Homo sapiens: one gene and its partner. The protein of the gene in region 2 purifies or fractionates together with the protein of the main gene of each other region. This does not show direct contact. Each region holds a gene or a part of one and is shown on either strand. Other genes may lie near its edges.

What was found. The genes of interacting proteins can lie anywhere in the genome.
Region 1: the proteins of AP3S2 (region 2) and AP3B1 purify together in Homo sapiens (affinity purification with western blotting; one study listed by BioGRID). This does not show direct contact.

The regions. Positions count from the first base shown.
Region 1 is NC_000005.10:78,221,699-78,225,198, forward strand, and holds part of AP3B1 (AP-3 complex subunit beta-1), read right to left. Parts: intron 1-3,500. UniProt on the Homo sapiens protein: Subunit of non-clathrin- and clathrin-associated adaptor protein complex 3 (AP-3) that plays a role in protein sorting in the late-Golgi/trans-Golgi network (TGN) and/or endosomes.
Region 2 is NC_000015.10:89,838,495-89,841,994, forward strand, and holds part of AP3S2 (AP-3 complex subunit sigma-2), read right to left. Parts: intron 851-3,500; exon of another isoform or gene 1-850. UniProt on the Homo sapiens protein: Part of the AP-3 complex, an adaptor-related complex which is not clathrin-associated. The complex is associated with the Golgi region as well as more peripheral structures.

The sequences.
Region 1 (3,500 bases), on a different chromosome or scaffold from region 2:
AGATCCAATGTGCATAAAATAGGAATCCCTGAAAAAGAAAAAAAATAACAGAATTAATATTTAAAATTATAATCTTAAAAAAAAACACTTTGCCAGAGATAATAAAAATTCTGAATCTACATTTTGAAAGGACTCACTGAGTACCAAGGCAAAACAATTGACCCATATCAAGTAATCCTGAAGTACCTTGCAAAAGTACTATATTTCAAAGATAAAATCTTCAGGGCCAGCATCTTTCTTAATGCAAACACAATGTAAGCATTTCCTTTAGACTGAAACAAGGCAAGAATGCCCACCATCTCCACTACTATTGAACACAACTGTAGTGATGGCACTAAACAATATAATTAGGCAAGAGAAATTAGAGTTCTAGGAACTGAAAAAGAGGAAGTAAAACATCTCTATTTGCAGATATGATTCATTCTCTAAAAAAAAAAAGAGAGAGAGATTTAGGCTGCTTGCTTCTGCCTCAGAGTTGGTGCTGTCATGGCCAGTCAGTCTCAGGGGATCCAGTAGCTGCTGCAGGTTGCTGAAAAGGGTGTCTGAGACCTGCAGTGAAAGAACCGGAGGGAGAAGCAGGCCAAAGCAGCAGTTCAAGGTGAAATTGAACAATATTGCCTGCAGAGGGAGAAAGAGTTCAAGGCCAAGGAGGCTGCTGCCCTGCGATCCCAAGGCAGCTGCAGCATTAAAGTAGAGGAGACCCAGGAGAAGAGAACCATCTGGAAGCAGTTTAGGCAGAAGAGGGGTGAAGTCTTGGCCTTTTTCTGCAATATCTGGTAGTCCATTCCTGCTAGTGGTTAGAACAATGAACACTAGTATAATTGTTTGGGCCAGTTTTAGTTACTTAATCAAAGAGGACAGAATTCAAGAACTTGTTACATGTTACTACTTGGTGTACTGATAATCATTTAAAAGTAAAGACTCTTTGTCATGCAAAAAAAAACCCAAGGAGGATGAATGAGAAAATTAACTCAAACAATAGAAGAATTCAGTAAAAAAGCAGAATATAAAATTTATCACTCAAAAAAAATCAATAGCTTTCTTACATACCAACACAACGAGTTCAAAGATATAAATAGTTGAAGCAATTTTGATTTACCATACATTAAAAAAAAGATTAAAGACAAAAACAACTCTAAACTAATATTTAACTCTAATTAAATATTTAACTCTAATTATTAGGCCCCATGCTACTGTATACCCCACAGAGGTACAGTGCTAGCAATTCTGAAGCAATAGTTTCTCTGCATTCTGAGACTCAGCAAAAATGTAAACAGATTGTGGAAATAGGAGCCCTGTTTCTTGTTTTTTTGTTTGTTTGTTTGTTTCTTTTTTTTTTTTTGTAGAGACAAGGTTTCACCATGTTGCCCAGGATGGTCTCGAACTCCTGGACTCAAGCAATCCATCCACCTTGGCCTCCCAAAGTGCTAGGATTACAGGCATGAACAATGGTGCGTGGCCAGAGCCACATTTCTTAATGTTGAATAGGCAGTTTCAAATATAAAAAGGAAGGAGGCTGGAAGGAACTCTGTGCTATACCACCAGAATTACAGGTGTCAGTAAAAACTTTGTTTTTTACTATAGACAGAAAAAGAAATATGTATTCTTAATTAAAAAAAATAAACATATAGTATATAACACTTTAGGAAAAATGAGTGCCTCACAAAGGGTAGGCCACCAAAGCCCCCAAAGAATCTACCTATGAACACTGAGCATGAAACCACTGCAGGGGGGTGAGGGAGACATTAAAAACGATACTACACACTTAATTACTATCACCAAGAATGTAACAAATTAATTCAACAGTCATTCAACAAATATTAAATACCTGTGATGAACAAGTATTCAATATTTTTTACTTTCTGGTGTATTTTGGAAACAGACATTCCAATTTTACACAGATATTGTATCTTTACATCTTTTTGAGTACTTATTTCTTATTTGGAATTTTTAATCACATCCCATGTGGTGTTAGGCACTGTGCTGAGGGTTTTATATACAATAGTTCTTTCTCTCGACACAAACAGCAAATTTATAAATTAGATATTATAAACCCTACAAATCTGGAGCCTAAAACTCATAAAGAATTGGTACATATACTATGTGGCAGACGCTCAGACATTAAGCCAGTTCTATCTGATTCAAACGCTATTGTTTTTACCTATGATATGCTGTATCCTGTCTGGGAAGACATGCACATATTATACAGAGAGAGTTCATTCCCAGGCCATCCAAAGAATTTCTCTTAGTCTATAATGTAGCAGAAATGATGGTAAAACTCATTAAAATGACAGATCTGCTTCTTGTAGATCTTACTACTCTCCATGGTACTTAGCCAATCTCTTGCACTTATAATAGAAAAGCACTAAGTATTTTTTTAAATTATTAAAATCAAGTTAACCATAATATTAATAATATTGACTTCATATCTGGCAGATAGCATGCCTGTCATACAGAAGACAAAAAGGAATCAAATTTCTTTTCTCTATCTTCATTTATAATCAATCTATATTTAGTTACCTCCTACGTTATACCAACTATGCATAGAAGAAATGCAATAATGATTTCTGGTACACTACAGACTAACAGAAATTTACTAAATGGTCTAGGAATGAAACTACAAGTATAATCTCCATGTATAAGACAATATTTTCAAAAATATATAGTAAAAAAACCATGAAAAGAATTAAAATGTTCACTAGAACATATTCACTTAATCTAAGAAAAAGCAATAAAGGAGAAATAAGGAACAAAAAAGGCATGAAACATATAAAAGCAAGTAAAATGACAGCTTAAAATCCAACTATATTAATAACAACAATAAGTGTGAATGGATTAAACATTCCAATTAAAGGCACACATTGGCAAACTGGATAAAAAGACAAGAGCCAACTATATGCTGTCTATGGAGACATACAATAGATGCAAAAATATAAACAGGCTGAAAGTAAAAGGATGGAAAAAGATATATAATGGAAACAGCAACCATAAAAAAGCTAGAATAGTAGTATTTATAACAGGCAAAACAGACATTAAAACAAAAAAATGTTACTAGAGATAAAGAGGAACATTTTACAATGACAAAAGGAAGATTAAAAAAATTATAAACATACATGCACCAAACATCCAATCTCCTAAATAGATGAAGCAAACACTAACAGAATTAAAGAGACTTCAATACCCTGTTTTCAATAATGAATAGAACAAGTAGGCATAAGATCAGCAAAGTAGAAGATTTGAACAACACTAAAAAACAGATATCTATAGAACACTCCACTCAACAACAGCAGAATACACATTCTAATCAAATGTTTATTGAACATTATCCAGGATAGATCAAATGCTAAGCCATAAACCAATAGTTACAGCTACACAGGGCTACTGCCTACTGTATTAGATAGCTGCCATGCATAGATAGTACATACTCCCTGATGATAGCATCCTAAGATGAGCTGGAATCCTTTTCCTCAGTAGTTTTGAGAAATATAAAGTGGGTACAA
Region 2 (3,500 bases):
AACTACTGTACCCCTTTGTGGTAGGAAAGCTGTCACAGAAAGCCCTGGGTGGGTCAAAGCAGAGATGCCCACTGTGGTTCATAAGGAATGGTACTCCATATTTCAAACCAAATCACATCAAATGGCCCTCAAGGTGCTTTCGGTCAAGTTGGGAAGACAGCAAGTACAACCTTCTATTGTTAACTAAGTGCCAAATGACTGGGATAGTCCTGGGGAAGTCAGAGAAGAAAGGGTACAGTGGCTAGAGAGATCAGAGAGCTTCACAGAGACAGTGGGAGGATGGAAGCTGGGCTCTGACATTAGAGAGGTAGGGGAAAGAATTTCAGGTAGAAGATGTTGGAAGGAGCAATTCAGCTGGTGTATGGGCAGGTATGGGGAGCTCCTGGGTCTGGCTGGGATGGCAACTTTCTTTATGCAGGAGAGAGGCTAAGACAAGGCTGAGAAGGTAATTTGGGTCTGGAGCAGGGCTTCTCAGCCTAGGTACTAGTGACATCTGGGACCAGATAATCCTCTGCTGTGGGGCTGTCCTGTCACTGTGGCCTGTTCTCTAGCATCCCTGGTCTCTACTCCTCCAGCTTGACAATCAAAAATGTCTCCAGAATTGTCATATGTGTTCCAGGGGGCAAATTCACCCCAGCTGAGAACCACTGGTCCAGAGTCTAGAGTCAACCACCAGTTTACTCTGTCAGCAATGCAGAGTCAAGAAGAAAGATGTGTCTGCATATCTGGGCACTGTGCACTTCTGACATCTGAAGTTCTCTGGCATTGGCTCCCTGTATTTTGCCCTCAGTAAGTGCAGGGAACTTCTGATCTTGAGGACAGAGTATAATAAATCAAATGTATTCCCTTGCGTGTGTGCCCACATTGAGCTTTATTAACCACTGTTCTGTCTACACACACGCACACACACACTCTCACGAGGTGTTCTTACATTTTATACAATATGAATTATTCATTAGCTATATGCAAATGAAGATTTAATGGTAAAAGTCTCATATTTAGATAATTTACAAAATGTTAAACAAGACTGGTTTTAAAATTATTCCCTGGGGGAATTCCACTGTTTATACTTCCCCATCAAGAAATAGGCCTCTGAAAACAGTATGGTGGTTCCTCAAAAAGATTAAAAACAGAATTACCATATGGCCCAGCAATTCCACTTTTGGATATACACTCAAAAGAACTGAAAGTAAAGACTTGAAGAGAATGTGTACACCCATGTTCATAGCAGTATTATTCACAACAGCCAAAAGGTGGAAGCAGCCCAAGTGTCCATGAACAGACGACTGGATCAACAAAATGTGCCATAGAAATACAACAGAATATTATTCAGCCTTAAAAAGGAAAAGAATTCTTTTTTTTTTTTTCATCTGAATTGAGATGCTGTAAAAGGGAAGGGAATTCTGAGACACAATGTAACACGGATGAACCTTGAAGATACTATAAGTGAAACAACCCACACACAAAAGGATGAGGACTGTGTGATTCCACTCCTGTGAGGTACCCAGAGTAGTCAAATTCAGAGACAGAAACTGGAACGGGGGCTGCCATGAGGCAGGGGGAAGAGGACAGTGGTGGCTATTGTTTAATGTGTACAGAGGTGCTGTTTTGCAAGATGAAGAGCTCTGGAGACGGATGGTGGTGGCGACTGCACAACAATGTGGATATACTTAATGCCACAGAACTGTAAGCTTAAAAATGGTGAAGACAGGAAACTATATGTTACATATTTTACCACAATTTAACAAAAAAGGAGAGAAATAGTCCTCTATACCTGCACTTTCAGTATTTATTCCTTTTATTTAGCCAATCCCTGTGTGGGTAGAAAGTAGTACTTGTTGAGTATCTATTATGAACCAAGTACTTTATGTAACTTACCTTAATTTTACAACATTCATCTAAGGTAGGTAATATAATCTTCACTTTATTATTATTATTACTATTATTATTTGAGGCTGAGTCTCACTCTGTCACCCAGGCTGGAGTACAGTGGTGTGAACTTGGCTCACTGCAACCTCCGCCTCCTGGGTTCAAGCGATTCTCCCAACTCAGCCTCCTGAGTAGCTGGGATTACAGGCACCCGCCACCATGCCCAGCTAATTTTTATATTTTTAGTAGAGTCGGGGTTTCCTCATGTTGGCCAGGCTGGTCTGGAACTCCTGACCTCAGATGATCCCCCTGCCTTGGCCTCCCAAAGTGCTGAGATTACAGGCGTGAGCCACCACGCCTGGCCTGACTTCACTTTATATATGAAGAAATTGATACATTTTATATATGAGGAAAAGGCAATAAAATGATCCCAATGTCATGTATATTAGCAGCAGAATGGTGCTGATTCCGGAGCTCATGTTCTACCCTTTATATCATACTTCCTCAGAATCCCAAACTATGTCTTCCACTCTATTCATCCCTGACCCCTAGTCCACATGAAATCATTTAAGACTTGTCTTTGGTGTGTCAATATCTTGTATTAATTCTTCCATGCTTTATCTCCAAGGCCTAGAACAACGCTCAGAGTAGGCATGCTAAATGAATGAAAGGCTTTCCATATATCTAAGTAGCATATTCCTTGGGCTTTAGGGACTTCGAAGATAGACAACAGTGTGGTGGTGGGGGCTTTCTGGAGAAGGTATAGTAAAAGGCCTAACACATGATGTCGTGGAGACTAGTGGCTGGTTAACAGAAAAAGTCAGTTAAAACTTCTTATTTAACACTGCATCATAAAGTCAGCATTTTCAAATGCTGTTCAAAATATGTTCCAAATGCAAAAAGAAGAAATAAAAATGCAAACTCCATTTTTGTTATAACTACAGGATATCCAAAATTCCAAACCCCCAAACAGGTGAAAAAGCTGTCAAAAGCAGGGAGCTCAGGCAGGGACTCCTTTGCTTCACAGAAGAAAAAGAAGAAAGGATGCTACAGGGAGAGGACAGGGAAGCTGGTGATCTCAGAAAGATCTGCAAAAATATGTACTTCCTGTGGGTAAAGGACACACTCCAGCACCAAATTAATTCCTTGTTTTTGGAAGGCAGGAACTTCCTTGGACCTGAAGTTGAGGCTAAATGAGAAATCACGCAAGCTACATTTGCCTCACAGAGGTGGTGTCTGTGGTAGTAGAGAAGACATCCTTTGCATTGTGGAGATGCTAAGAGACGCCTTGCCTATCTCGATTGGCTGGCTAGAGACTAAGGGTAAACGGACTCACCCAGAACCCTAAATCAAGGGAACAACTGTAGCTAGCCCAGAACAGAGTTTTGGTAGCTCCTCCAACAAACATCCTGCAAAACAGCTGGTCCCTGAAAAACTTGCCTATTTAAAGATAAGTATACAAAAAATCTAAACAGGATCTATATAAATATACAACGAGAAAAAATTAGGAAAGAAATAGGAAAACCAAATGGCAGACTAAGACCACAGACTGGAAAAGGGCCTCCATGGACTAGATACAATGGTAATAAAATATTTTACACAAAGAAAAAAAGAAAACTTGATAAAATAGT